4 separate regions of the Homo sapiens genome follow, and regions 1, 2 and 4 are each linked to region 3. The links come from fine-mapping of genetic effects on gene expression. A gene starts in region 3. Each other region holds a variant in brackets. All regions are shown on one strand. Distances are from middle to middle. Region 1 overlaps CD4 (CD4 molecule). Region 2 holds the start of CD4 (CD4 molecule). Region 3 holds the start of GPR162 (G protein-coupled receptor 162). Region 4 has its middle 13 kb from the start of MLF2.

Region 1 (8,127 bases), 20 kb before region 3:
ACATAAGGCAGTTTTCTCCTCTCTCAAAATAGAATGTATGATCGGTTTTACACCGGGTCATTCCATTCCCAGGGACGAGCAGGAGACAGATGCCTTCCTCTTATCTCAACCGAATAGAGGCCTTCCTCCTTCACTAATCCTCCTCAGCACAGACCCTTTACGGGTGTCGGGCTGGGGGGCTGTAAGGTCTTTCCCTTCCCATGAGGCCATATCTCAGGCTGTCTCAGTGGGGGGAAACCTGGACAATACCTAGGCTTTCTCGGGCAGGGGTTCCTGCGGCCTTCCACAGTGTATTGTGTCTCTGGTTAATAGAGAACGGAGAATGGTGATGACTTTCACCAAGCACACTGCCTGCAAGAACTTTTCTTTTTTTTTTTTTTTGAGACAGAGTCTTGCTCTGTCGCCCAGGCTGGAGTGCAGTGGCGCGATCTCGGCTCACTGCCACCTCTGCCTCCCGGGTTCACGCCATTCTCCTGCCTCAGCCTCCCGAGTAGCTGGGACTACAGGCGCCCGCCACCACGCCCGGCTAATTTTTTTGTATTTTTTTAGTAGAGATGGGGTTTCACCGTGTTCACCAGGATGGTCTCGATCTCCTGACCTCATGATCCGCCCGCCTTGGCCTCCCAAAATGCTGGGATTACACGTGTGAGGCAAGAACTTTTTAAAAGTGCATCTTGCGCAGCCCTAGATCCATTAAACCTTGATTCAATACAGGACATGTTTTTGTGAGCACAGGGTTGGGACAAAAGTTACAGATTAACAGCATCTCAAAGCAGAACAATTTTTCTTAGTACAGATCAAAATGGAGTTTCTTATGTCTTCCTTTTTCTACATAGACACAGTAACAATCTGATCTCTCTTTCTTTTCCCCATACCTCTCACGCTGTATCAGGCCCCAATTCTTGGGAACGTCACCTTAGAACTGTCCCACACATTTCTACAGCCACTTGGCTCAGGCCCTTTGCTGACCAGGATGGTTGCAGTTCTGCCTTTGGTGCCTCGCCTCCTCCAGTTCTTTCACTCAGCAGCTGCAGGGGTCCACGTGGCAAATCTAATAATCTTCTTCTCTATAGAAAATCCTCTGCTGGCTCTCTAGTGCCCAGGATCCAGTCCCAGCATCTCAGCACGGCCTTCAAGCATTTCCACGTCCTGGCCTGGCTCCATGGTCTCCCCGCCAATTTGCCACCTTCTCCATGCATCCTTTTCTGATCCCCTCCTCACTCATCCCAGCAAAGAACCCCCTCCTGGCCTGAGCATAGCATTTCGTGGTGTGTATCTCAGAGCATCCAGTTAGGGGTGTGCAAGTTTACTTTGTTACTGGCTGATGTTGTGAAGTCCCAAGTTGTTGGTGCCGCAAACAAAAAATTGGACATGACACACACAAATAGCAAAGCAGCAAAAGTTTATTAAGCACAGTACGATCCACTATGGATCAAGGATGACCTGCGAATGGTATCAGCATCACTTTGCTATATTTCATGGCCTTTTCTATGTGTTTTTTTTCTCTTTTTCCTCAAGCTGCCTAAGCTTTAGCCAGCATGTGCCTTTTGGTTGACAGGTGGGTTGCTTAGTTTCTTGGCCTCTGTGTGTTTACGTGTCATTTCCTTCCCATAGTTTTAAGTACATGCATGATATGCACTCTGTAGGCATGAACCTTAAGTAGCTAATTACTATACGGGGTCATTTTGAGGATATCTTTTCTCTGTAGTACATGTGCATCTTTTTTTGCAGTGGTGCAATCTTGGCTCACTGCAACCTCCTCCTCCCTGGTTCAAGTGATTCTCCTGCCTCAGCTTCCTAAGCACCTGAGACTACAGGTGCATGCCACCACGCCCGGCTAATTTTTGTATTTTTAGTAGAGATGGGGTTTCACCATGTTGGCCAGGCTGATCTCGAACTCCTGACCGCAAGTGATCCACCCACCTCGGCCTCCCAAAGCACTGGGATTACAGGCATGAGCCACCGCACCCAGCCTAGTATATGCCCATCTCTTAGGAGCTGCTCCTAACTGGTTTGGTTTGGATCTAGCCAGCCATGGGGCTCCTTATTCACTTATTTATCTTCTGTTTTTGCTCACCTGCCTCTTTCTCTTGCTTCTGCTCCTACTCATTCCTTCCTTAATCCAACCTCCAATTCCCTCTGCTATTCTCCTGCCTCAAGTTCACTAGGCTGGCTGCAAGGGTCCTGAGGGAGAGGTTGTGTATCGCCCCTGTATACTCCAGGTCCAGTAAATGTTTGCTGACTAATGATTGGCATTTCCCTCAGGCCCTGCCATTTCTGTGGGCTCAGGTCCCTACTGGCTCAGGCCCCTGCCTCCCTCGGCAAGGCCACAATGAACCGGGGAGTCCCTTTTAGGCACTTGCTTCTGGTGCTGCAACTGGGTAAGTTCTCAGACCTGGGGTCTCAATGCAGATGACGTGGGAGGAAAGGCAAAGGTGGAGGATGGGGTAGAGGGGGACAGCGGCGACATTGAGACCTGACTCCTTTCTTTTCCACTTAGCGCTCCTCCCAGCAGCCACTCAGGGAAAGAAAGTGGTGCTGGGCAAAAAAGGGGATACAGTGGAACTGACCTGTACAGCTTCCCAGAAGAAGAGCATACAATTCCACTGGAAAAACTCCAACCAGATAAAGATTCTGGGAAATCAGGGCTCCTTCTTAACTAAAGGTAGGGTTGCCTGGCTCCCCATCCAGGGAGGAAAACACACTATGGAGTGAAAGCCTTTGGTGTCTGAGATCTGGTCTTAGTTAAACTCTGGGATCCCAGAGGGCTTGGGTTGACAGAAACTCAGTGGCATTCTTATCCAGAGTTTCTCTACACCAACTGCTGGTGGCCCAGGGAAAGGTGGTATGTGAATTTCAATATTTTAATATTTAATATTCATGAACTTATTTTAGTGAGTTTTAGAACAATCACTATCACTTAAAACCCGTGATTTCTTGAGTATTGTTGCTACAGACCTATGTAGATAATACTTTGCACAGTGACTCATATGTATAATCCTAGCACTGTGGGAGGCTGAGGCCGGAGGATTGCTTGAGTCCAGGAGTTCAAGACCAGCCTGAACAACATAGTGAGACTCTGTCTCTATGAAAAAAAATATATATATATTTTTTTTGGAGACAAGGTCTAGTTCTATCACCCAGGCTCCAGTGCAGTGGTGTGATCTCGGCTCACTGCAATCTCCACCTCCCAGGCTCAAGTCATCATCCCACCTCAGCCTCCCAAGTAGCTGGGACTACAGGCATGCACCACCATGCCAGGCTAATTTTTGTATTTTTTATAGAGACAGGGTTTCACCATGTTGGCCAGGCTGGTCTCGAACTCATGAGCTCAAGTGATCCACTCACCTTGGCCTCTCAGAGTGCTGGAATTACAGGTGTGTGTCACTATGCCTAGCCAAAAAAAATTTTTTTAATTAAAAAAAAAAAGGCCGGCTGTAGTGGCTCACACCTGTAATCCAGAACTTTGGGAGTTTGAGGTGGGCAGATCACCGGNGGTCAGGAGTTCAAGACCAGTCTGGCCAACATGGTGAAACCCGGTCTCTACTAAAAATACAAAAATTAGCCAGGTGTGGGGGTGCAGTCCTGTACTTCCAGCTACTCAGGAGGCTGAGGCAGGAGACTCGCTTGAACCTGGGAGGCAAAGGCTGCAGTGAGCTGAGATTGCACCACTGCACTCCAGCCTGGGTGACAGAGCAAGACTTCATCT[C/CA]AAAAAAAAAAAAAAAGCTGCANATTTATTATTATTATTATTAGTTTATTTATTTATTTTTTTGAGACAGAGTCTCGTTCTGTCGCCCAGGCTGGAGTGCGGTGGCGTGATCTTGGCTCATTGCAACCTCCACCTCCCGGGTTCAAGTGATTCTCCTGCCTCAGCCTCCCGAGTAGCTGGGACTACAGGCGTATGCCACCATGCCTGGCTAATTTTTTGTACTTTTAGTAGAGACAGAGTTTCACGGTGTTAGCCAGGCTGGTCTTGATCTCCTGACCTCGTGATTTACCCTCCTTGGCCTCCCAAAGTGCTGGGATTACAGGCGTGAGTCACTGTGCCCGGCCCAGAATCATTTTTTTCTACTTTTTTTTTTTTGAGGCAAACTCTCGATCTGTTGCCCAGGCTGGAGTGCAGTGGGCATGATCTTGGCTCACTGCAAGCTCTGCCTCCCAGGTTCAAGCAATTCTCCTGCCTCAGCCTCCTGAGTAGCTGGGACTACAGGCGTGTGCCACCATGCCCGGCTAATTTGCGTATTTTTAGTAGAGACCGGTTTTCATCATATTGGCCAGGCTGGTCTTGAACTCCTGACCTCAAGTGATTCTCCCACCTTAGCCTCCCAAAGTGCTGGGATTACAGGCATGAGCTACTGCACTTGGCCTTTTCTCCTGGTTTTAAAACTATTATATGCTCATTACAAAATATTTGGTCAATGAAGAAAAGAATATGGAAGAAAATCAAATGCATGCATACTTCTATCACTCAGAGATATCCTCTGCTAACATTTTGATTGATTTTCTTCCAATCTTTTTTTTTTTTTTTCTTTTTGAGACAGGGTCTCACTCTGCTGCCCAGGCTGGAGTACAGTGGCATGACCACAACACATCACAGCCTCAAGTGATCTTCCCACTTCAGCCTTCCCAGTAGCTGGGACTACAGGTGCACGCCACCATGTTCACCTAATTTTTTACTTTTTGTAGAGATGAGACTTCACCATGTTGCTCAGGCTGGTCTTGAATTCCTAGGCTCAAGTGATCTTCCCGCTTTGGCCTCCCAAAGTGCTGGGATTATAGGTATGAGCCACTGCATGTGGCCTATTTTCTTCCACTGTTGTTCGGCGTGGAGAATATTATATACATAATTACGTAAATGATATCATACTGTATATACCTTTTTTCCTACTCCTTCCTTAAGTTATATCATAATGAGACTACCAATTATTAGACTTTTTTTCTTTTTTTTGAGACGGAGTCTCGGTCTGTCACCTAGGCTGGAGTGCAATGGCGCGATCTCAGCTCGCTGCAACCTCTGCCTCCCAGGTTCAAGCAATTCTGCCTCAGCCTCCCGAGTAGCTGGGACTACAGACACGTGCCACCATGCCCAGCTAACTTTTTTATTTTTTTATTAGAGACAGGGTTCCACCATGCTAGCAGGATGGTCTCAATCTCTCGACTTCGTGATCAGCCCGGCTTGGCCTCCCAAAGTGCTGGGAGTACAGGTGTGAGCCACCGCACTCGGCCTAGACTAACTATTTAAAGTAATCTGGCAATGTTTAACGAATACAAAACTCTAAAACCCTTGGACCTAATAATAGCTATTTTGGAAAGTCTACTTGACAGAAATAAAATTGTGAATATTCTTTTTTGTTGTTTTTTTGAGACAGAGTCTCATTTGGACGCCTAGGCTGGAGTGCAGTGGCATGATCTCGGCTAACTGCAACCTCCACCTCCTGGGTTCAAGTGATTCTCCTGCCTCAGCCTCCTGAGCAGCTGGGATTACAGGTGTGCACCACCATGTCTGGCTAATTTTTGCATTTTTAGTAGATGGGGTTTCACCATGTTGACCAGGGTGGTCTGGAACTTCTACCCTCAAGTGATCTACCCACCTTGGCCTCCCAAAGTGCTGGGATTACAGGTGTGAGCCACCACGCCTGACCAGTGAACACTTAATAATATCTATGGAAAGGTGTTATTATAAGAATTGCTTGTGGGGCCGGGCGTGGTGGCTCACGCCTGTAATCCCAGCACTTTGGGAGGCTGTGGCAGGCGGATCACGAGGTCAGGAGATCAAGATCATCCTGGCTAACACGGTGAAACCCCGTCTCTACTAAAAATACCAAAAAATTAGCCAGGCGTGGTGGCGGGCACTTGTAATCCCAGCTATCCAGGAGGCTGAGGCAGGAGAATTGCGTGAACCCAGGAGGCGGAGGTCGCAGTGAGCTGAGACCGTGCCATTGCACTCCAGCCTGAGTGACAGAGTGAGACTCCATCACAAAAAATAAATAAATAAATAAATAAAATATAAATAAGTAAATAAAGGTCAGGAGTGGTGGCTCACGCCTGTAATCCCAGCACTTTGGGAGGCCGAGGTGGACAGATCATGAGGTCATGAGATCAAGACCATCCTGGCTAACACAGTGAAACCCTGCCTCTACTAAAAATACAAAAAGTCATCCAGGTGTGGTGGCACACACCTATAGTCCCAGCTACTTGGGAGGCTGAGGCAGGAGAATCACTTGAACCCAGGAGGCAGAGGTTGCAGTGAGCTGAGATCGCGCCACTACACTCCAGCCTAGGCGACAGAGCAAGACTCTGTCTCAAAATAAATAAATAAATAAATAAATAAATAAATAAATAAATAAAATAAAAAGCACACACACACACACACACACACACACACAATGCAAAAGACCCACCCTACTACAACTAACATTATATTTAATGGTGAAAAACTGAATTCTTTCTCCCTAAGTGCAGGAATAAGACAAAGATGTCTGCTCTTACTACTCTTATTCAACATAATACTGCAATCCCTTGCCAGTGCAATAAGGCAAGAAAAATGAAATAAAAGGAAAACTGATCAGAAAGAAAGAAATAAAACTGTTCCTATTTGTGGATGACATGATTACATAGAAAATCTCAAAGAATCTGTAAGAAACTTCTTAGAATTAATAAATGAATTCATCAAGGTTGCAGAATATAAGATAAACATAAAAAATCTATTGTATTTCTATATATTAGCAAGGAACATGTGTACACAGAAATTAAAACTACAATACCATTTATAATTGCTCAAAAAGGCCAGGCATGGTGGCTCACACCTGTAATTCCTGCACTTTGGGAGGCCAAGGTGGGAAGATTGCTTAAGCCCAGGAGTTCAAGACCAGCCCGGGCAACATAGTGAGACCTTGTCTCTACAAAAAGTAAAAAATTAGCTGAGCATGGCCGGGTGCAGTGGCTCACTCCTGTAACCCCAACACTTTGGGAGGCTGAGGCGGGCGGATCATGAGGTCAGGAGATCGAGACCATCCTGGCTAACACGGTGAAACCCTGTCTCTACTAAAAACACAAAAAATTAGCTGGATGTGGTGGCAGGCGCCTGTAGACCCAGCTACTCGGGAAGCTGAGGCAGGAGAATGGCGTGAACCTGGGAGGCGGAGCTTGCAGTGAGCTGAGATTGTGCCACTGCACTCCAGCCTGGGTGACACAGTGAGACTACGTCTCAAAAAAAAAAAAAAAAAAATTAGCTGAGCATTATGGTGTATGCCTGTAGTCCCAGCTACTGGGGAGGCTGAGGTGGGAGGATTGCTTGAGCCCTAGGAGGGCAAGGCTGCAGTGAGCCATGATCACACCACTGCTTTCCAGCCTCGGTAGGAGAGCAAGACCCTATCTCAAAAAAAAAAAAAAAAAAAAAAGAAAAGAAAAGAAAAGAAAAGAAAAAGAAAGAGAGAAAGAAATACTTAGGTGTAAATCTAAAAAACATGCGTAGGGCCAGGTGCAGTGGCTCATGCCTGTAATCCCAGCACTTTGGGAAGTTGAGGCTGGCGGATCACTTGAAGTCGGGAGTTTGAGACCAGCCTGGCCAACATGGTGAAACCCCGTCTCTACTAAAAATGCAAAAATTAGGCAGGTGTTGTGGCGCATGCCTGATCCCAGCTACTTTGGAGGCTGAGGCAGGAGAATTGCTTCAACCCGGGAGGCAGAGGTTGCAGTGAGCCAAGACTGTTCCACTGCACTCCAGCCTGGGCAACAGAGTAAGAGTCTGTCTCCCGAAAAAAAAAAAAAGAAAAAAGAAAGCATTGAATTGTATGCTAAAAACTACACGATGCTGATTAAAGAAGTCAAAGAAGATCTAAATATATGGAGAGACATGCTGTACTCATGGATTGATGGATTGGAAGACTCAACATAAGAAAGATATCAATTTTCCCCAAATTAATATACAAGTTTAATCCAATTCCTATAAAAATACCAGCAAGATTTTTTGTAGATATAAACAAGTTGGCCAGGTGTAGTGGCTTACACCTGTAATCCTAGCACTTTGGGAGGCTGAGGTGGGAAGATCGCTTGAGCCCAGGTGTTCACGACTGCAGTGAGCTATGATTGTGTCACTGCATTCCAGCTGGCACTCCAGCCTAAGTG
Region 2 (8,127 bases), 29 kb before region 3:
AGTAGTGGTAGTGCAGAGTGACTTGGGTAGATTTTGGAGCCATTTAGAAGGTAACATCCACAGGAACTGGTAAATAAATACGTGGGAGAAGTTGGGTGAAGGGGGTGTCAAAGATTACACCCAATTTATTTTGCTTGGGCAAGTTGGTGGATGGTGAGCCCCTCACTGAGTGAGAAGCCTGGAGAAGCAGGTTTGGAGGGTGGTAGTATGCAGGTGGTATGCATAGTTGGGGATGTGTGTTGAGTTTGCTATGTCCGGTGAGCTTCCCAGTGGAGATGTCCAATGGGCAGACGGATACTCACATAGAGAGTTCATGGTAGATTCGGGCTAGAGGAAAGCACCTGAGGCCTGGCCAGAGACGCCTAGAGGAACAGAGCCTGGTTAACAGTCACTCCTGGTGTCTCAGATATTCTCTGCTCAGCCCACGCCCTCTCTTCCACACTGGGCCACCTATAAAGCCTCCACAGATACCCCTGGGGCACCCACTGGACACATGCCCTCAGGGCCCCAGAGCAAGGAGCTGTTTGTGGGCTTACCACTGCTGTTCCCATATGCCCCCAACTGCCTCCCACTTCTTTCCCCACAGCCTGGTCAGACATGGCGCTACCACTAATGGAATCTTTCTTGCCATCTTTTTCTTGCCGCTTAACAGTGGCAGTGACAGTTTGACTCCTGATTTAAGCCTGATTCTGCTTAACTTTTTCCCTTGACTTTGGCATTTTCACTTTGACATGTTCCCTGAGAGCCTGGGGGGTGGGGAACCCAGCTCCAGCTGGTGACGTTTGGGGCCGGCCCAGGCCTAGGGTGTGGAGGAGCCTTGCCATCGGGCTTCCTGTCTCTCTTCATTTAAGCACGACTCTGCAGAAGGAACAAAGCACCCTCCCCACTGGGCTCCTGGTTGCAGAGCTCCAAGTCCTCACACAGATACGCCTGTTTGAGAAGCAGCGGGCAAGAAAGACGCAAGCCCAGAGGTAAGGTGGTCAGACTCGGCTTCCTTCCCCGGAGCTGAGAGGGAGGGGAACGTGGGGCAGATGCACAGGAATGTGCTCTGCCCAGTTGTCTGCCCACAGCTCTGGCCACCTTCTCTTGCATTTCTCTTGGAACTGGTCATGAGCAGCGATTTCCCACTGGAACTGTGAGCTTCCAGAGGTCAGAGACTGTGCTAGACTCCTCTCTGCAGCCCCAGCGTGCACAGCTCAGTGTCCAGAGCAATGGGTGCTCCTTAGAGGAGTAGTGACCTAAATAGCAAGATCAGAGAGGGAGTGAAGACTGGAGACTATCCCAGGCTGGGAAAGGCGTGGAAGGCAACTAGTCGTGGGCAGTTGAGGGGAGAAGACTGGAAGAGGGGAAAAGAGGAGAAAAAGAGTGAAGAAGGGGAGGGAAAAAATTAGAAAGAATAAATAAATATAAGGTGGGAGGAAACCTATAAAAAAGAAATGATGAGGAAAAACATAAAAACAAGAAAAAGAGCAAAAGAAGTGGAATCTAGTCTAGAGAAAATTCTTGCAAAACCAATTTTCCTTAACGGGACAATCTCCAAAAATTGACACCAAATATCATACTTGCAGCATTTCATAAGTCGCATGATCTATGTAATAGTCTCTTTTAACTACCTTTTGTGTTTCTGTGTGTATTTTTAAATTTTTGTCTGCTTCTTTGCTCTTTTAAGATTTTTGAACAATGTCTAAAGGCACTTCTACTCTAGTTAGCTTTAAAATGATTCATGAAATAGGAAAGCTAAAATTCTCAGAAAGTGTTGAAACTGAGCTTTTGCGTATGAATTGCCCTAAAAGTTGCAGATACATATCTTTAGATAAATATGTCATTTAAGAAACGGATTCGAAAAGAATTGGTGGTAGGGGTCTCATGAGGCCGGGAGAGTTACAGAAGGATGTGCAGCCCCTCCTGGGCCTGGCAGGGTGTGAGGGAGAGTGAGGACTCACTGTCCCTCCTGAAGGGAAGCCCTGTGCCATCTCAGCCTTTCCGCCCTCAGACCTTTCCAGCCCCTGAGACCTCATGGCCTTGAAGCCGTGCTATCCCCAGTGTCCTCTGCTTTCCCCTCATAGGCTTCTTCTGGGAGAGAGGTTTCCTGGGGTACGTTCTGATCCCTCAAAACGGAAAGGCCCTGTTCTCAATAATTCAAAGATTTCACTCTGAGTGGGATAGTGCTTCCTGAATGCCCTGCTCTTGTGGTGGACATTTTTATCGGGGCAAGGCTAAGAGCAGGGCCTGATGGGGGAAGTCACTGCTACTTCACATTTTGACCAATAATTCCTTGTGCTGTATCAGATGCTGTAGGCTGATACAAAATGGCCGCCGCCCTCAAAGTCAGATGAAAGAGCCCCTGAGGACAGCGTTAGAGACACTCGGGAGATGATTTCCCTCTTTCAATGTGGGAGCACTTACATAGGAGAGGTCTATATCTAGATAAAAACTCCTCCCACCACTGGTGCTAGACAGAGCTTGGGGGCAGCCCTAGGCTCTGACCCTGGCCGTAATGGCGGGGTGGTGCTGAGGGCAATTGGCTAGACCAATTGTCTTGCACGTTTTATTTTTTATTATTATTTTTGAGACGGAGTCTCGCTCTCTTGCCCAGGCTGGAGTGCAATGACGTGATCTCCACTCACTGCAGCCTCCACCTCCTGGGTTCAAGCGATTCTCCTGCCTCAGCCTCTTGAGTAGCTGGGATTACAGGAGCCCAACACCACGCCCGGCTACTTTTTGTATTTTTAGTAGAGACCAGGTTTCACTATGTTGGACAGGCTGGCCTCAAACTCCTGGCCTCAAATGATCCGCCCGCCTTGGCCTCCCAAAGTGCTGGCATTACAGACGTGAGCCACCATACTGGGCCAGTCTTGCACATTTTAGACACTCAATAAATGTTTGTTGAATGAAATACCTGTGATGGGCCGGGCGTGGTGGCCCACACCAGTAATCCCAGCCCTTTGAGAGGCCGAGGCAGGAGGATGGCTTGAACCTGGGAGTTTGAGACCAGCCTGGGCAACATGGTGAAACCCCCATCTCTACAAACCCCACAAAAGTTAGCTGGGCATGGTAGTGTGTGCCTGTGGTTCCAGCTACTTGGGAAGCTGAGGTGGGAGGATTGCTTGAGCCTGGGAGACGGAGGCTGCAGTGAGGCCTGACTGTGCCACTGCACTCCAGCCTGGGCGAGAGTGAGGCCCTGTCTCAAAATAACTTTGATGAAGGTGGGGAATCAGAAGTAGGTGGGCAGGGGTCTGGGTTTGCAAGGCTCTGAGTTTGAGCTCTGTTCTGTACCTTTGAGGGGATGAGGGAAGGAGGGTGGGCACGGTTCCCCCGATGTGGGTGTCTGAGGCGAAGAAGAGGATGGCGGAGGTTGCAGCCACCAACCACAAGAGTTCCTTAGAGGGGTCACAGTCTCTAGGAAGTTTATAGGAAGCTAGTCAGCAGTAGAGAGGGTGAACGCGGTGGGGCACATCCCGCGGCTGGGCTTGAGTGGGCTGCTTGGGGGTTATGGGGAGAAGATAAAAGTGCCTGTGGGACCACAGACTCTCGCTGTGGTGGAGCTGGGCCCTCTTACCCTCCCAAGCCTCGCCCCTCATCCCATCCCTGGGGGCCAGGGGTGAGGGCGGCAGGAACCTCAAGGCTCTGAGAAAGTGCGTGGTGTGTGTTGCCATTTTGGTCTCTTCTCTTTCTCAGTCTCTCTTTGCCTCACTTTGGATCTATGCTCTGTGCATCTGTCTTGCTTCTCAGAATTTCTTCTTTTCCTCTTTTTTTGTACTACCCTGCGCTTTGTGTGTGATTGTGGATTGTGTGTGCATAGCTGTTGCTTTAACAAGCTGCTCCAGGTCTCTCTCTCCCACATCTTTCCCTCCCCTCCTCCCTTGAGGCTCTGTGCATTCTGGGGAACTCTGTCCATTTCCCTTTGTCCATGTGTCCCTCCCACCCTGCAGCCGGCTCCCTCACATCCACCCTGGGCTGCAGGCGTGCTCGGCAGGCTCCCCACAGATCAAAGCTTGTCCAGGGTCTGCATTGCTGCCAAAGGCCAGGAGGACTGTGTACAGACCGGAAGGAGCTAGAGCTTAGTGGCAGCCTGAGAGGGGAAGCTGAAAAAGGAGAAGAGGCAAGGGGCATTCCAGGGGAGCCCGGGAGAGCCAGCACGGCC[G/T]CCTGGTATATGAGGCAAAGAGGAAGACAGACACAGACACAGGGAGCTGCAGGCTGGGGGCATAAGCTGGGGGCTGGGAAGCATAGATACAGAAATGCACAGATGTGAGCTGAGAAGCAAGGAGGGAGAGAGAGAGACAGAAAGAGAGAGAGAGACGTGCCAGGGCTTGAGGGACCAGAGAGCCCTCCCAGCCTCTCTCGGAGTGCTGGTATACAGGATGCTACCGTACTAGGGTAAGACACCTCTGGGGACGCTGAGTATGGGAATCAAAGGCCAGATCTCTGGGGTGGCAGCGGAAGCCCAAAGCACCAAAGCAAGCATGCTGGAAACCCACAGCCTCCTCCACTTAGCAGAGCCTTGGGGTGAGATGAGGCAGAACAGGGAGCTGGAGGCAGGGAGGTGGCTGTCTGCACATACCTCAGGACCATGGAGCTGGGGGAGTCAAAACAGCCACCATATGGGGAAGGGTCAAGAATGCCTCTAGTCTTCCCCAGGCATCTTATCAGGGTAAGCTGAATTTGGACCCCAGAGAAGGGATATCGTTTATGGAGACTTCCCCTCTTTCATCCCCTGCTCACCAAGGACCCAGTCAGTCTGGGATGGGGGACAGTGGGAACCACTCTTTGGTATGAGGCTACTCCTATTCTACTCTTCTCACTGCAGCCTTCCCCTAGATGCCTCCCATCTGCATGCTAACCTGTAAACACTTCACCATCACTGGTGGCTAGTCTCCCTTCCTCCTTTTTCAGAAACCTCCTTCCTGACCTCTTTTCTTCCTACTTCCCCGGTTTAAACAAAATTGTATCTATCTATCATCTATCTATCTATCTATCTATCTATCTATCTATCTATCTATCTATCTATCTATCTTTTTTTTTTTTGAGACAAAATCTCACTCTGTCGCCCAGGCTGTAGTGCAGTGGCACTACAAGTAATCCCAAGTAGCTGAGATTACAGGCGCCCGCCACCATCCCCAGCTAATTTTTTTGTATTTTTAGTAGACACGGGGGTTTCATGATGTTGGCCAGGCTGGTCTCAAACTCCTGGCCTCAAGTGATCTGCCTGCCTCGGCCTCCCAAGGTGCTGGATTATAGGTATGAGCCACCACACACGACACCCGGCTTCTATCTATCTATATCTATCTATCTATCTATCTATCTATCTATCTATCACCTATCTATCTAATCTATCTATATCTGTCTATCTATCTTTATGTATCTATCTTATCTATTGATCTATCTATCTTTTTTTTTTTTTGAGACAGAGTCACTCTGTCACCCAGGCTGGAGTGCAGTGGCACGATCTCGGCTCACTGCAACCTCCGCCTCCCGGGTTCAAGCGATTCTCCTACCTCAGCCTCCTCAGTAGCTGGGACTACCCACCACCACTCCTGGCTAATTTTTGTATTTTCAGTAGAGATAGGGTTTCACTATGTTGGCCAGGCTGGTCTCCAACTCCTGACCTAAAGTGATCCACCCACCTTGGTTTCCCAAAGTGCTGGGATTACAGGCGTGAGCCACCGTGCCTGGACATATATCTATCTTTTTTTTTTTTGAGATGGAGTCTCGCTCTGTTGCCCAGGCTGGAGTGCAGTGGCGTGATTTCGGCTCACTGCAACCTCCGCCTCCCGGGTTCAAGTGATTCTCCTGCCTCAGCCTCCCAAGTAGCTGAGATTACAGACGTGCGTCACCATGCCCAGCTAATTTTTGTATTTTTAGTAGAGATGGGATTTCACTATGTTGGCCAGGCTGGTCTCGTACTCCCGACCTCAGGTGATCCACTTGCCTTGGCCTCCCAAAGTGCTGGAATTACAGGTGTGAGCCACTGCATCCGGCCTTATATATCTATCTTGTCTGTCTGACTGTCTAATCTAATTCATCTATTTTATCTGTTTATCTTATCTATCATCTATTTATCTAATCTATCTGTCTGTATGTCTGTTTTTTTTTTGTTTTTTTTTTTTTTTTGAGATAGAGTCTTGCTCTGTCGCCGAGGCTGGAGTGCGGTGGCGCGATCTCAGCTCACTGCTGAACCTCCGCCTCCTGGGTTCTAAGCGATTCTCCTGCCTCAATCTTTGGAGTAGCTGGGATTACAGGCCCGTACCACTGTGCCCGGCTAATTTTGTATTTTTAGTAGAGAAGGGTTTCACCATGTTGGTCAGGCTTGTATTGAACTCCTGACCTCAGGTGATCTACCCGCCTAAGCCTCCCAAAGTGCTGGGAGTACAGGTGTGAGCCACTGTGTCTGTCCCTAAATGTCTGTCTCTATCTATCTATCTATCTATCTATCTATCTATCTATCTAATCTATCTTTCTGTCTAACCTAATCTATTTTATCTATCTTATTCATCATCTATCTAATCTGTCTGTATGTTTATCTAATCTATTTACCTAATCTATCAATCTATCATCTAATCTATCTAATCTGTCTATCTAATCTATTTTATCTATCTATCTATCTGTCCATCCATCTATCTACCTACCTGTCTATCTCAAGCACCTACCACGTATTAAGCCCTGGCTACCTCCTCTTCCAGGCAGATGGAGTAACTGGAGGCAGCTAACAAAGATGGAGTCACTTTTCTTATCTTCTCCTAAACCACCGTAAGAGGACCAAGCCCCCACACCTTCTGAGTGCCCCATTCCTCTCCACAGATTGTGTCTTAGTGCCCAGCAGGAAACACAGTCCACCTCCCATGGTTCAAGAGATTGTAGAAAGGGGGTTATTCACATAGGTTAAGGGAATCAATCAATTTGAAGCACAGACACTATTAACAGCAGGAAGAGTCCTGAAGAAGTGAAAATGGTGTTTCTGGAACCCAGAGAGTGCTTGCACTCTGGATAAGGGGCCACCCCACAGAAGCTGTGGAGGGGCAGGGCTGCAGGTGAGGATGAACACACAGCTATTGACAGAAAATATGCCCAGGGCAGGGATAGAGTAGGAAAAATATCCCAGCTTCTTTCCCCCACCCTTCCATCTCATCTCTGAAAGGCACTTCCCACTGGCCAGCCCCGACTGGTGCTGGAGGGCAAGAGAGCCTATGAGCCATGTGTGGCTGTCAGCCCCTTGGTGGAGAGCCACAGACAGGATGGAGAGTGGCTGGCAGGGCCCCGTGGGGATGAACAGCTTGGATTGGGGCGACTGGGCTTCATCCAGGCTGGGCTGGATGTGTGCATACATTTCAGTGACCCGTTTTAGAAACAGAATTAATATGGTGAATAGAGAAAGAAGAAATCAGTGACTTTCGCTCCTCCATACAATTCAATTTGGCTTAAGTTAGCCAAAGCCATACCAAGTCCTCTCTCTATGTCTCAGCTGCTGCCAGGCTTGTGGTGGCCACACAGCTGGCTAGACTGTCATCTCTGTCCTCAAGGGGCTCAAGCTAGAGGAGGAGAGTTGAGAAACCAAATCACTATACACAAAGTAGAAGGTGGAACACACCCAGGAGCATGTCAACGGGGTGCTGTGGGACTTCAGAGTAGGCAGATCGTCACCAAGCTTCAACGGCAAAGATGCCACTGGGGGAAAGAAGGACCAAGCTTGGAAGACAGAGTAAGTCTGGAGGCAAGATCTTGTCTCACCAGCAGGGGCCAGGTCCATGGTGACACCTTCCCCAGGCAGTCACCTCTCTGAGCCCACTTTATATCCTAGGCCTGGATTCAAAGACACTTGAGCCCTGCTCCAGCCTTCCTTTGAGGTGCTATCTTGGTGCCTTTCCTATAATCACTGCTCCAGTCCCATGTCATCTGGTCCCCAGTTACCACATCAAGCTTCCCGAAGCTCCACACAGACCATGCCACATCTTTACCAAAAAATCAGCAGTGGGTCCCCTCACCTCCAGGACAAAGCTCCAGCTCTTCGACCTGCCTGTCAATATTTGCAATCACTGCCTGCACAAATTAGCTGGGTGTTGTCATGAAAGGATCACTTGAGCCCAGGAGTTCCAGGCTGCAATGACCTATGATTGAACCACTGCACTCTGG
Region 3 (8,127 bases):
CACACACTCCCATACACTCTCACACACGCACACACATCACTCACACACTCGCACACACTCATACACACACTACACACACATCCACACTCACACCCACACTCTCACCCCATGTACTCACACCCATGCACTCACACACTGTCACACACTCATACACACACATGTACTCACACATGCATGCACACACACACTTACACATTCACGCACATACTCTCACCCACACACTGTCGTACACGTACACTCACACACTTATACACTCACATCCGCACACGCATTATTCACACATGTGCACACACGCGCGCGCACATGCATGCAGTCACGCACACACATTCATACACGCACACAGGCACACATTCACACACATGCACACACGCACACACATTCACACATGGACTCACACGCGCACACGCGCGCACACACACACATTCACACCATTCACACACGCACACACATGCACACACTCACACATGCACACACACATGCACTCACACACACAGCCCAGGAGCCAGACCACAGCTTCTCTCTCTCCAGAGTGCCCTGGATATGGATATGCCCAAACATAAAACCGATTCCCCAGCACTGGCGGCCTTTGAGAGCCCCCAGGCACCCCTCCCCTCTCCCCCAACCCCAGGGTCAAACCAGAGACTGGCCAGGAGGGATTGCAGGGCAGTCCTCAGTCCCCTGGCCCGTGGAGGAGGGCGGTGCATTGAGCACATTTCTCTCCCTTGCAGTTCTGCCCACATGGTCCACCCCGGTGCAGCCAATGGCCCTGATTGTGCTGGGGGGCGTCGCCGGCCTCCTGCTTTTCATTGGGCTAGGCATCTTCTTCTGTGTCAGGTGCCGGCACCGAAGGGTGAGTAACCCCACACCTGGTCCCCACAAGGCCCTCAAACCCCTGAGTCCTCTACCAGGAGATCCTGTATATGGGAACTGATTTTGGCCCAGCTCCCTCTGCCCACTCGTAAGTTCCCTTGCTGCCCTGTCCCAGATCCCACTCAAGGGAGAGACAGGAAGGAGCAGAGAGTTAATTCCAGGATAGATGGCCTGGGCCATGTAACTGCTTCTCCTGTCGCAGCTTCCCCCACTCCCCCCACCAAGGGGCACCTCCCTTCTGGAGGCCTGGGACCCTCGTGACTCCCTTTCTTGTCCCTGGACAGCGCCAAGCAGAGCGGATGTCTCAGATCAAGAGACTCCTCAGTGAGAAGAAGACCTGCCAGTGTCCTCAGTAAGGATCTGGGAGGAGGGGTTGAGAGAGGGGAAAGGGGGAGGGGGAGGGAGTTAGAGAGGAGGGGGAGGAAGGGGAGCAAAGGGGGGCAGGAAGGGAGGATGGAGAGGAGGAAGGAGTTGAGGAGGAAGAGCTGGGAGGGGTGGAGGTGAGGAGATGGGGGCTAAAGGGGTGTGGTGGAGAGGATAGAGGGGTGGGAAAAGATGGCCAGGAGCTAGAAGGAGGCAGAAGTGGGAGGATGGAGCTGAAGGAGCAGCAGGCCAGGAAAGGCCCTGCTGGAAAGCCACTGGAGCTGTGCTGCGCTGGAAAGGCCATTGGAGGTGCTAGAACGCAAAGGGGTTGCAGTGGGGACAGACCTGCTCCCCTTCTTCTTTGTTCCTGCAGCCGGTTTCAGAAGACATGTAGCCCCATTTGAGGCACGAGGCCAGGCAGATCCCACTTGCAGCCTCCCCAGGTGTCTGCCCCGCGTTTCCTGCCTGCGGACCAGATGAATGTAGCAGATCCCCAGCCTCTGGCCTCCTGTTCGCCTCCTCTACAATTTGCCATTGTTTCTCCTGGGTTAGGCCCCGGCTTCACTGGTTGAGTGTTGCTCTCTAGTTTCCAGAGGCTTAATCACACCGTCCTCCACGCCATTTCCTTTTCCTTCAAGCCTAGCCCTTCTCTCATTATTTCTCTCTGACCCTCTCCCCACTGCTCATTTGGATCCCAGGGGAGTGTTCAGGGCCAGCCCTGGCTGGCATGGAGGGTGAGGCTGGGTGTCTGGAAGCATGGAGCATGGGACTGTTCTTTTACAAGACAGGACCCTGGGACCACAGAGGGCAGGAACTTGCACAAAATCACACAGCCAAGCCAGTCAAGGATGGATGCAGATCCAGAGGTTTCTGGCAGCCAGTACCTCCTGCCCCATGCTGCCCGCTTCTCACCCTATGTGGGTGGGACCACAGACTCACATCCTGACCTTGCACAAACAGCCCCTCTGGACACAGCCCCATGTACACGGCCTCAAGGGATGTCTCACATCCTCTGTCTATTTGAGACTTAGAAAAATCCTACAAGGCTGGCAGTGACAGAACTAAGATGATCATCTCCAGTTTATAGACCAGAACCAGAGCTCAGAGAGGCTAGATGATTGATTACCAAGTGCCGGACTAGCAAGTGCTGGAGTCGGGACTAACCCAGGTCCCTTGTCCCAAGTTCCACTGCTGCCTCTTGAATGCAGGGACAAATGCCACACGGCTCTCACCAGTGGCTAGTGGTGGGTACTCAATGTGTACTTTTGGGTTCACAGAAGCACAGCACCCATGGGAAGGGTCCATCTCAGAGAATTTACGAGCAGGGATGAAGGCCTCCCTGTCTAAAATCCCTCCTTCATCCCCCGCTGGTGGCAGAATCTGTTACCAGAGGACAAAGCCTTTGGCTCTTCTAATCAGAGCGCAAGCTGGGAGCACAGGCACTGCAGGAGAGAATGCCCAGTGACCAGTCACTGACCCTGTGCAGAACCTCCTGGAAGCGAGCTTTGCTGGGAGAGGGGGTAGCTAGCCTGAGAGGGAACCCTCTAAGGGACCTCAAAGGTGATTGTGCCAGGCTCTGCGCCTGCCCCACACCCTCCCTTACCCTCCTCCAGACCATTCAGGACACAGGGAAATCAGGGTTACAAATCTTCTTGATCCACTTCTCTCAGGATCCCCTCTCTTCCTACCCTTCCTCACCACTTCCCTCAGTCCCAACTCCTTTTCCCTATTTCCTTCTCCTCCTGTCTTTAAAGCCTGCCTCTTCCAGGAAGACCCCCCTATTGCTGCTGGGGCTCCCCATTTGCTTACTTTGCATTTGTGCCCACTCTCCACCCCTGCTCCCCTGAGCTGAAATAAAAATACAATAAACTTACTATAAAGATGCTCTTCGTGTGTGTGTGTGTGTGTGTGTGTGTGTGTGTGTGTGTGTGAGAGAGAGAGAGAGAGAGAGACCCCTTCTCTGGGGACCAGGAATCTTCTGGTCTTTGGGGTCGGACCCAGAGGAGAGGTTGCTGGGCGTGCCCCAGGAAGGAGATGAAGTTTCCCTGGAGAGGGAAAAATTCTGTGGAGGCTGGCTACCCACCTCCACAACCCACAGGGCTCTGTGTGGGCCTGTGTGTGTGTGAGGCTGAGACTCTGTAATTACATGTGTGTGATATACCGTGGGGGAGAGACTCAGGGTTGTGTGAGCTCTCCTGGTGTATGTGTGTGGCAGAGAAAAAGGACTATGAGAAACTGTAACATGTGTGTGCAAATTGTATCCCCAACATATGTGTTTGTGTTCCAGGAGGAGGAGGCAGAGTGTGTGTGTCTGTGTGCATGCATGCGCCCACATCCTTTTAGCTTGTGCACAACCACCCCCAACTCCACAAGCAGCCCCAGTGTGCACCACAAGCCCCCTCACTCCCAAACCCAAGGCCCAGCCCTCACACAGATACACACAGTGACACACGCTTCCTCCTCCCCGAACAGCTAGCTCCTCAGTCCCCAACAACACCAGCTGCCTCTTGGAGCTTGTGTTCGTGTTGAAAACGGGAAGGGGTGGGGGCAGGACATGAACCATTTCACCAATGAAGCCGGTTCCCAGCCATCCTCCTCACCGCCCTCCCTCTCAGCGCCTTCCTTGCCCCTCCTCCCCGAGTCACCACCGTCCAGTTCCCCACCCTGCACTCGTTTCCCGCCCCCCCCCGCCCCCCACAAAGCTGTCCTGCCTTCCCTCTGGCCTGGGCTCACTGGCAGGACGACCCCGGGAGAGAGGGTCCTGGAGAGTGAGAGGGGCAGAGACCGAGTGAGCCGTGGGCTGAGCCTGGGAGGCCGGGACTGAGGGGGAGGAGGGAGGCCCGGGGGAAGGGAGGGAGGGAGAGAGGGAAGGAGGGAGGAGGGCGGGCGAGCTGGAGCCGGCAGGCAGCGGGAGCCCGAGAGAGCCGCGTCGGGAGTGCGGTCTCCATGGCAGTGCTGGGCGCAGCCGGAGAGAGGTAAGACGACCCCTGCCTGCCCCGTCCCCTGTGTTGCCTCCCTTTCCCCCTCAAGCTGCCTCCTCTCCCCTAGGCCGGCCCCTCCTCCCCAGCCACCTGCTGTTTCTGCCCTGGAGAACCTGGAGGGGGACAGGAGGGAGGAGCCGCCTGACCTTACCCCTTCACCCCAAAGGGCGAGGGACCCCGTCGGCCAGGGAACCTCCCAGATCCCCCTTCCCACCTTCCTCTGATCTCTCCCTGTCCTTCACCTCCCTCTCTCTGTCCTTCACATCTTTCCTGCCTCCTTCCCTCTCTGACTCCCTATCTCTTTCATCCTGAGCCCACCAGCTGGGCCTGGGTGGAGGTGGGTGGGAAGGGGTCCAGGGCTGTAGGAGAGGACACTGGGGGCTGCTCTTGGCCAAGTCCCTCCACCTCCCTCTGGCTGGCCATTGCCATGGCAACTAGGGTGTACTGGGCTCCGGAGGGAAGCCAAGGGTGGGGGTGGACCAGGACCTCTTGGGGAAAGCAAGGGTCTGAGCTGCTTCCATGGGAAACAGACCCTTTCACTGCTGTGCCCCATTTTTACCCCACTTACCCTAAAGCCATTATGTGCTTCCTTACAGCCCCACTCTGTTCAGGGTTTCACCCGATTCCCTTACCCCCCTTCCCAGGGCTCACTGAAGCTCAGCATCACGCACTAAAACTGGGACCATCCTTCCTCCCATGAGAGGGAAACTGAGGCTCTGGGCCAGGGAGGAAGAGTCAAGGTCTCCCCACGGGGAGTCAGCACCTTATTGAACATTTGGCTTTTCTTCTCAGCCTCCTATTCCCTGCTCCCTCCCTCCCTCCCTCCTCCAGTCCCTCCTCCCTCCAAAGCCTCCTCTCCAGGGGGTTTGAGCTTTTCCTGCTATTTTCAGATACTACCACTTTGCCCCCTCTTTCTCTTCTGCTCAAACTCTCCTCCTTCTCCCTAGTTCCCCCTCTTTCCATTTCTGGATGCTTCTGATGTCAGCGGTTTCCCCGCCTTCAGGTTCCCTAGCACCCCCTTCGGTCCCAGACTCCTTTCTCCCATTTTCCCAGATATGGGTAGCTGGAGGGTGATCACCCAGGTTTGGGGAAGTAGGGGCTAAGCACCAAGACCCCTGCATCCAGGAGACCGGCAGGTAGGGGAGGAAGGCTGTGATGCCATATCCCAGTTCACTGTGAACCCTCAAGAGGAAACCAGTCTTGTGTCTCCCATCAGTAGTTCTGAAGAGACATTTAGGGACTTGAAGATAGGGGTGGAGTAGTGCTGAGCAGGGGATGTTCTAAGAAGGAACCTGGGAGTTCCAGCGGGAGGAGGAAGGGCTAAAGGAGACAGGGAGGTGGGAATACCTTCTTCCCTAGAGGTCTGGAAGAGTGCGGCTCTCATCTGTGTGGGGTGTTTAGCTGTCAGAGTTAAGGCAAAGGAATGTTCTGAATGACCCTCAGGGCCTTAGTAATCAGTCATGCCTATAGTTTCAAGAAAGGGGGCACAGGAGGCTGATTGGAGACCAGCCCAGGCCCTACCTTTGCCCTCTCCCTCCCACATCTCATCTTTCCCTTGCAGCCTGTCCAGGGGGCTGAGCCCCACCCCCAAATCCCTGGGGCATCCAGAAGATTCCTGACTGGTCAAGAACCAGAGGCAAAAGAGACCTGGAAGTCCCAGCATGGGGACCAGAACCCCCCAGCCAGCCTCATAGTTGGGAAAGTAGCCAGCTTGCCTGCCCCATCAATTGCAGGGATGCTTAAGGAAGGCCCCGCCCAGTATGAAAGCTGAGGATTGCCTCTGCTGACCCTCAGTCTCCTCCCCTGCCCTCTACATCTGCCCTCAGCTGGGTCCATCATGCAATGCTGAGCACTGGGGTGAGCCTGGGGGCAGCCTGCCTGCTGACAGGGCGAGGATTGTGGGGATCATGGGAGTGTTTGTGAGTGGGGCTCCTGGGTGAGACCTAGCCCCCACCCCCACAGAGCTCAAGGGGGTGGGGGGCTGAGGATAGGATGGCTCGGGGCGGGGCGGGGGCAGAGGAGGCCTCCCTGCGCTCCAACGCATTGTCCTGGCTGGCCTGTGGGCTCCTGGCGCTGCTGGCCAATGCCTGGATCATCCTCAGCATCTCGGCCAAGCAGCAGAAGCACAAGCCACTGGAGCTGCTGCTCTGCTTCCTAGCGGGCACACACATACTCATGGCAGCTGTGCCCCTCACCACCTTTGCCGTGGTGCAGCTGCGTCGTCAGGCTTCCTCCGACTATGACTGGAACGAGAGTATCTGCAAGGTCTTCGTGTCCACCTACTACACCCTGGCGCTGGCCACCTGCTTCACGGTCGCCTCCCTCTCCTACCATCGCATGTGGATGGTGCGCTGGCCCGTCAACTACCGCCTCAGCAACGCCAAGAAGCAGGCACTGCATGCCGTCATGGGCATCTGGATGGTCAGCTTCATCCTCTCCACACTGCCCTCCATTGGCTGGCACAACAACGGCGAGCGCTACTATGCCCGCGGCTGCCAGTTCATAGTCTCCAAGATCGGCCTCGGCTTTGGCGTTTGCTTCAGCCTCTTGCTACTTGGGGGAATTGTCATGGGTCTGGTCTGTGTGGCCATCACCTTCTACCAGACACTGTGGGCCCGGCCCCGGAGGGCTCGGCAGGCCCGGAGAGTGGGGGGTGGTGGGGGGACCAAAGCGGGTGGGCCAGGGGCCTTGGGTACCCGGCCAGCTTTTGAGGTACCAGCCATTGTGGTGGAGGATGCCCGAGGGAAGCGGCGGTCCTCGCTGGATGGCTCGGAGTCTGCCAAGACATCCCTGCAGGTCACCAACTTGGTCAGCGCCATCGTCTTTCTCTATGACTCACTCACAGGGGTGCCCATCTTGGTGAGATCGGGGTCCTCCCCACCTGTTCTCCCCAATATCCAGGCCCCAGCATCATCACCTGACCTCCAACTTCATCAGCCATACAGCAGCTCCGTCATCTCTCCTCCAGTTCCATCATCCATCTTCCTCTCCTCTGTCCATCCCCCACTCCATTTGTGGCCCCCATCTTGATCATCTGTCTTTTAGTTCCCACTACCCTGTTTACCCCAGCTCCAGCATCTGCTTCAGTTCCCACTCCTCAGCTCCATCACCGTCCTTCAGTTCCACGACCTGTCCTCCAGCTCCGTCATCCATCCTGCAGCTCCACGGTTCAGCCGCAGACCTCTCATCCAGCCGCTGGGCTCCACTCTCCATTCCCTCCTTCCCTCGGGCTGCCACATGGTCTCTGAGCACTCTTGGCTGGAAATCCCACAGGGCTCACCCCACCACCCCATCTAGTCACTGTTCCTGGGTTCCTGTCTGTCTCTACGGTTCCTGGTCCACCTCTGTTCCTCTCCCTCCTGACCGCAGGGCTTTGTCTCCAGCACTCTCCCCGACCTTCCTCTGAGTCAGTCCCTTCCCTCTGTTCACTCCATCTCCACCTCCGGCTTCGCCTCTGTTGGAGCACAGGGATCAGGCATTACTTCTGACGTCTTGCCCACCAGCTGCACTAGGATATGGGGTTCAGGTGGGCTCCTCAGCTCTGGCCCTGACCCAGCCCGCTCCCACCCTTCCCCAGGTGGTGAGCTTCTTCTCCCTCAAGTCGGACTCGGCGCCCCCCTGGATGGTGCTGGCTGTGCTGTGGTGCTCCATGGCACAGACGCTGCTGCTGCCCTCCTTCATCTGGTCCTGCGAGCGCTACCGCGCCGACGTGCGCACAGTGTGGGAGCAATGCGTGGCCATCATGTCTGAGGAGGATGGAGATGACGGTCAGAGGAGGGGCTGGGCTTTGGCTTTCCTGGACATCTGTCTATTCCCTTTTCTGCCGCTCCTTCTCAGCCAGAGGATGGGCTGCCCTGGAGTGCCCCCTACTGGACAGAATCTGCACCACCCTGGGCTCCCCTTTCCCTAAGCA
Region 4 (6,846 bases), 81 kb before region 3:
TTTAGGCAGAAGAGAAATGACACCAAAGGAAACACGGAACATTAAGGATGAAGAGCAGCAGCAATGGTAAATATAATAGATTATTTTTCTCCTCTTAAGTTCTTTAAAATGTTTATGACAGCTGAAAGAAAATCATAAATTTGATGTTTGTCTCAAGAGGGAATTCTCTAAATATAATTTTAAAACAATTATAAATTCACCTAGAGCCATGCACCGCGGCTCACGCCTGTAATCCCAGCACTTTGGGAGGCTAAGGCGGGCGGAACACTTGAGGTCAGGAGTTGGAGACCAGCCTGGCCAACATGGTGAAACCCTGTCTCTACTAAAAACACAAAAATTAGCCGGGCGTGGTGGTGCATGCCTGTAATCCCAGCTACTTGGGAGGCTGAGGCAGGAGAACTGTTTGAACCTGGAGGTAGAGGTTGCAGTGAGCTGAGATCGCGCCATTGCACTCCAGCCTGGGCAAGAAGAGTGAAACTCCGTCTCAAGAAATAAATAAATTCACCTAGAAGGCTAGGTGTGGTGACTCACACCTATAATCTCAGCACTTTGGGAGGCTGAGATGGGCAGATCTCTTCAGCCTAGGAGTTCTAGACTAGCCTAGGCAACATGGTGAAACTTCGCCGCTATAAAAAATACAAAAAAAATTAGTGGGGCATGGTGGCCTGTGCCTGTAGTCCCAGCTACTTGGGAGGCTAAGGCAGGAGAATTGCTTGAGCCTGGGAGGTAGAGGTTGCAGTGAGCCAAGATTGTGCCATTGCATTCTAGTCTGGGCAACAGGAGTGAAACCCTGTCTCAAAAATTAAAAATCAATAGATAAATTCACCTAGAACTAAGCATTTTTAGCGTTTAGTATGTGGAGTTTCAGTATTTGTAGTATGTGGTGTTTGTCATTTATAGTAACACATATGAGAACTACGAGATGAGACAGTAAAGGGAGCTATGTTGTGGTAAAATTTCTACATTTAACTTGAAGTGGTAGAAAAAAACTCTGATTGTGAAAAGTATGTATTTTGTAATCCCCATAGTAAGGGTTAGTAAACCATATTCCACAGGCCAAATCCAGCCCACTGCCTGTTTTTGTAAATACAGTTTTGTTGGACTGTAGTTACACCTCATTCATTGCATATCATGTATGGTTGCTTTTGCACTACAGCATCAGATTTGGGTGTTGCAACACACATTGTATGGCTGACAAAGCTCATCATATTTATTGTATCTGGCCCTTTACAGAAAAAGTTTGCCGGCCCAGTGTAGTGACTCTTGCCTATAATCCCAGCACTTTGGGAGGCCGAGGCGGGTGGATCACGAGGTCAGGAGTTCAAGAACAGATTGGCCAAAATGGTGAAAGTCCGCCTCCACCAAAACTACAAAAATTAGCCAGGCGAGGTGGCAGGCGCCTGTAATCCCAGCTTTTCAGGAGGCCAAGGCAGGAGAATTGCCTGAACCCAGGTGGCAGAGGTTGCAGTGAGGCGAGATGTCACCAATGCCTGTCCTAGAGCGACCACTAAAGAAAAGAAAGCCAGGCGCGGTGGCTCATGCCTGTAATCCAAACACTTTGGGAAGCCAAGGTGGGCAGATCACGAGGTCAAGAGATCGAGATCATCCTGGCCAACAGGGTGAAACCCTGTCTCTACTAAAAATACAAAAATTAGGCCTGGCGCGGTGGCTCACGGCTGTAATCCCAGCACTTTGGGAGGCGGAGGCGGGCAGATCACGAGGTCAGGAGATCGAGACCATCCTGGCTAACACGGTGAAACCCCGTCTCTACTAAAAATACAAAAAAAAAAAAAAAAAAAAAAATTAGCCGGGCGTGGTGGCGGGCGCCTGTAGTCCCAGCTACTTGGGAGGCTGAGGCAGGAGAATGGCGTGAACGCGGCAGGCGGAGCTTGCAGTGAGCCAAGATCGCGCCACTGCACTCCAGCCTGGGCGACAGGAGCGAGACTCTGTCTCAAAAAAAAAAAAAAAAAAAAAATTCGCTGGGCATGGTGGTGGGCGCCTGTAGTCCCAGCTAATCGGCAGGCTGAGGCAGGAGAATCACTTGAGCCCGGGAGGCGGAGGTTGCAGTGAGCCTAAGTTTGCAGAGAGCCGAGATCGCGCCTCTGCACTCCAGCCTGGGCGACAGAGCAAGACTCCGTTTCAAAAACAAAAAACAAAACAAAAAGCCGGGCGCGGTGGTTCAAGCCTGTAATCCCAGCACTTTGGGAGGTCGAGGCGGGCGGATCACGAGGTCAGGAGATCAAGACCATCCTGGCTAACACGGTGAAAACGCGTCTCTACTAAAAATACAAAAAAATAGCCGGGCGTGGTGGCGGGCTCCTGTAGTTCCAGCTACTCGGGAGGCTGAGGCAGGAGAATGGCGTGAACTCAGGAGGCGAAGCTTCCAGAGAGCCGAGATCACACCACTGCACTCCAGCCTGGGCGACAGAGCGAGACTCCGACTCAAAAAATGAAGAAAAAGAAAAGAAAATGATACAGAGATTTACTGGGTGAAAAAAATCTGTACATAAATTAAAATGGAATACTAAATAACATTCAAGTAAACCAATACAAGGCTGGAAAATGGAGACAGAGAAATTACAAACAGAACAAACAAAATAAATAATAAATAATAGAAATATTGCCGGGCGCGGTGGCTCACACCTGTAATCTCAGCACTTTGGGAAGCCGAGGCAGGTGGATCACGAGATCGAGACCGTCCTGGCTAACATGGTGAAACCCCATCTCTACTAAAAATACAAAAAAATTAGCCGGGCGTGGTGGCGGGCACCTGTAGTCCCAGTCACTTGGGAGGCTGAGGCAGGAGAATGGCATGAACCCGGGAGGCGGAGCTTGCAGTGGGCCGAGACCGTGCCACTGCACTGAAGCCTGGGCAACAGAGTGAGACTCTGTCTCAAAAAAAAAAAAAGAAAGAAAGAAACAAAGAAAAAAAAAGAGATAAATGCAAACATACTAATTATATTAATTTTTTATTTTTATTTATTTATTTTTTTGAGATGGAGTCTCACTCTTGTCGCCCAGGCTGGAGCGCAGTGGCGCGATCTCAGCTTGCTACAACCTCTGCCTCCCAGGTTCAAGCTATTCTCCTGCCTCAGCCTCCCGAGTAGCTGGGATTACAGGCATATGCACCAAGCCCAGCTGATTTTTGTATTTTTAGTAGAGACAGGGTTTCACCATGTTGGCCAGGACAGTCTCGAACTCCTGACCTCAGGCAATCCTCCCGCCTTGGCCTCCCAAAGTGCTGGGATTACAGGTGTGAGTCACCACACCTGGGCAATTATATTAAATTTAAATGGCCTAACTACAATTAAAAGACGGATAGGCTGGTGGTATACATCTGTAGTTCCAGCTACTTGGGAGGCTGAGTTGGGAGGATTGCTTGAGCCTGAGAAGTTAAGGCTGCAGTGAGCTGTAACTGTGCCACTGCACTGCAGCCTGGGTAACAGAGTGAGACCCTGTCTCAAAAAAAAAAAAAAAAGAAAAAAAAAAAAGACTCACTTCTTAACTCCAGCACTTTGGGAGGCTGAGGCGTGAGGATCACTTGAGCCCATGATTTTGACACTAGCCTGTGCAACACAGTGAATAGAGACCCCATCTCTATTTTAAAAAAATATCAAAATAATTTTTTTCTTTTTTTTGAGACAGAGTCTCACTCTGTTGCCAGGCTGGAGTGCAGTAGTGCGATCTCGGCTCACTGCAACCTCCGCCTCCCCGGTTCGCGCCATTCTCCTGCCTCAGCCTCCCGAGTAGCTGGGACTACAGGCGCCCATCACCACGCCTTCCTAATTTTTTTTGTATTTTTAGTGGAGATGGGGTTTCACTGTGTTAACCAGGATGGTCTCGATCTCCTGACCTCGTGATCTGCCTACCCCGGCCTCACAAAATGCTGGGATTACAGGCGTAACCACCGCGCCCGGCCAAAATAATTTTTTTAAAAGACCCAGAAATACAGTGTCTTAAAAAAGAAAACAAATACTTTTAAGTATGACATAGGTCGGTTAAAAGTAAAAAGATGGAGAAACACGTACCATGAACACTAACCAAAAGAAAGTTGAAAATGGCTGTAGTAACAGTTAACTAAACTTCAGAGCAAAGAAAATTACCAGAGATAAAGAGGGACATTGGCTGGGCTTGGTGGCTTAAGCTTGTAATCCCAGCACTTTAGGAGGCCGAGGTGGGCAGATCACGAAGTCAGGAGTTCCAGACCAGCCTGGCCAACATGGTGTAACCCCCATCAATACTAAAAATACAAAAAAATTAGCCAGGCGTGTAATCCCAGCTACTTAGAAGGCTGAGGCAGGAGGATCACTTGAACCTGGGAGGCAGAGGTTGCAGTGAGCCGAGATCATGCCACTGCACTCCAGCCTGGGTGACAGAGCGAGACTCTGTCTCAAAAAAAACAAAACAAAACAAAAAAGACATTACATAATAAGATATTTGGTTTTCCAAGTAGATACAATAATTCTAAATGTCTATGCATTTAACTAAAGCGCTTTAAAATGCACAAAGCAGGCCGGCCACTGTGGCTCACGCCTGTAATCCCAGCACTTTGGGAGGCCCAGGTGGGCAGATCACTTGAAGTCAGGAGTTTGAGACCAGCCTGGCCAACATGGTGAAACCCCATCTCTACCGAAAATATAAAAAATTAGCCAGGCGTGGTGGCATGCGACTGTAATTGCAGTTAC[T/G]CAGGAGGCTGAGGCAGGAGAATTACTTGAACCTGGGAGGTGGTCTAGCAGTAGCGAAAAGTGTCAAGGAACAACACCCGCTACTTAGCAGACCGGGAAAGTGAGTCTCCTTTTCCCCGGGGGAGTTTAGAGAAGACTCTGCTCCTCCACCTCTTGTGGAGGGCCTGACATTAGTCAGGCTGGCCCGCGGTTATCCGGAGGCCTAACCCTCTCCCTGTGATGCTGTGCTTCAGTGGTCACGCTCCTAGTCCGCCTTCATGTTCCATCCTGTACACCTGGCTCTGCCTTCTAGATAGCGGTAGTAAATTAGTGAAAGTACTAAAAGTCTCTGATATGCAGAAATAATGGCGTAAGCTGTCTTTCTCTCTGTCTCCTCTCTCTCTCTCTCTGCCTCAGCTGCCAGGCAGGGAAGGGCCCCCTGTCCAGTGGACACGTGACCCACGTGACCTTACCTATCATTGGAGATGACTCACATTCTTTACCCTGCCCCTTCTGCCTTGTATCCAATAAATAACAGCGCAGCCAGACATTCGGGGCCACTACCGGTCTCTGCGCATTGGTGGTAGTGGTCGCCCGGGCCCAGCTGCCTTTTCTTTTATCTCCTTGTCTTGTGTCTTTATTTCTATGCTCTCTCATCACCGCACACAGGGAGAGACCCACCGACCCTGTGGGGCTGGTCCCTACACACACCCAGCTAATTTTTTGTATTTTTAGTAGAGACAGGGTTTCACCATATTGGCCAGGCTGGTCTTGAACTGCTGACCTCAGGTGATCCACCTGCCTTAGCCTCCCAAAGTGCTGGGATTACAGGTGTGAGCCACCGCGCCCGGCTTTGTTTTTGTTTTTGTAGAGATGGGGTTTCACCATGTTGCTCAGGCTAGTCTCGAACTCCTGGGCTCAGGCAATCCTCCCTCCTCAGCTTCCCAAAGTGTTTAGGATTCCAGGTGCGAGTTGCCACGCCCTGCAGGAAATTTTCTATTTAAAGGACTTCTATGGTGAATCATTCCATACAGCATATTAGTATCATTTCTGTCAATCTAGGTTTTGAGTCCTGGCTCTCTCTGTGCTACTATCAGATAGCTGTATGATGTTGAACAAATCACTTCTCCGTTTCTTCAGAAGAAAATGGAAAGGGGGGTTTTGATGATATCTGGAATGACTGATAAGGGGCATCTGAATCATCTCCAACCCTGACATTCGGCTTTAGTATGTCTGAAAGCAGACCTACTGCCACATTTGGGAATTTCCAGAGCAGATGATCTCTAAGGTCTCTTTTTAAGTCTGAAATTGTCATTTATGACATATTTGGGCTTGCTGAAATTAAGATTCATCTGTATTGGGAATCGGCTTCTGTTCTTCCCTGCCATATTCCTTGTGAATTGTGAATTCCCCCACCTCAAATACATAACATCTTTATCTGAAGTCACCAGTGGTGCTCTAGGAACACAGCTTTGTTTACTTTCACCAAAGCATTTCCCATCTGATATGGTTTGGCCGTGTCTCCACCCAAATCTCACCTTGAATTGTAGCTCCCGTAATTCCCACGTATTGTGGGAGGGACCCGGTGGGAGGTAATTGAATCATAGGGGTGGTTTCCCCCATACTATTCTCGTGGTAGTGAATAAATCTCACAAGATCTGATGGCTCTATAAGGGGAAACCCCTTTTGCTTTGTTTTCATTCTGTCTCTTGCCTGCTGCCATGTAAGACGTGCCTTTTGCCTTCCAACATGATTGTGAGGCCTCCCCAGCCATGTGTAACTGTGAGTCCATTAAACCTCTTTTTCTTTATAATTTACTCAGTCTCGGGTATGTCTTTATCAACAGTGTGAAAATGGACTAATACACCACCTCAGTGTCATCTTGGCTTTTCCCAAGGTATCTCTGCTCTGTTTCTTTTTTTTTGAAACAGAGTCTCGCTCTATCCCCCAGGCTGGAGTGCAGTGGCACGATCTCGGCTCACTGCAAACTCCGCCTCCCGGGTTCACACCATTCTCCTGCCTCAGTCTCCTGAGTAACTGGGACTACAGGCGCCTGCCACAACACTTGGCTAATTTGTGTGTGTGTGTGTATTTTTAGTAGGGACAGAGTTTCACCGTGTTAGCCAGGATGGTCTCGATCTCCTGACCTCGTGATCCGCCCGCCTCGGCCTCCCAAACTGCT

Evidence for each region. PIP is the estimated chance that this variant, and not a neighbour inherited with it, causes the effect.
Region 1: its variant is fine-mapped to the expression of GPR162 in whole blood (INTERVAL, PIP above 0.99).
Region 2: its variant is fine-mapped to the expression of GPR162 in whole blood (TOPMed, PIP above 0.99).
Region 4: its variant is fine-mapped to the expression of GPR162 in whole blood (INTERVAL, PIP above 0.99).

The regions. Positions count from the first base shown.
Region 1 is chr12:6,797,807-6,805,933 of GRCh38, forward strand. It overlaps CD4 (CD4 molecule), which reads left to right. Exons shown (of 10, transcript NM_000616.5): 2 at 2,266-2,381; 3 at 2,501-2,665. The coding sequence starts at 2,333. Among named protein-coding and RNA genes, the nearest start is that of CD4, 12 kb to the left of the region's middle. The variant C/CA (reference allele first, on the strand shown) is at 3,710.
Region 2 is chr12:6,788,692-6,796,818 of GRCh38, forward strand. It overlaps CD4 (CD4 molecule), which reads left to right and starts at 837. Exons shown (of 10, transcript NM_000616.5): 1 at 837-971. RefSeq lists enhancers at 321-878, 694-743, 3,859-3,908. The variant G/T (reference allele first, on the strand shown) is at 4,145.
Region 3 is chr12:6,817,693-6,825,819 of GRCh38, forward strand. It overlaps GPR162 (G protein-coupled receptor 162), which reads left to right and starts at 4,129. Exons shown (of 5, transcript NM_019858.2): 1 at 4,129-4,208; 2 at 5,776-7,073; 3 at 7,792-7,981. The coding sequence starts at 6,207. It overlaps CD4 (CD4 molecule), which reads left to right. Exons shown (of 10, transcript NM_000616.5): 8 at 729-850; 9 at 1,155-1,222; 10 at 1,607-3,107. The coding sequence ends at 1,637. RefSeq lists enhancers at 1,168-1,668, 1,669-2,169, 3,140-4,112.
Region 4 is chr12:6,737,161-6,744,006 of GRCh38, forward strand. No RefSeq gene overlaps it. Among named protein-coding and RNA genes, the nearest start is that of MLF2, 13 kb to the right of the region's middle. The variant T/G (reference allele first, on the strand shown) is at 4,686.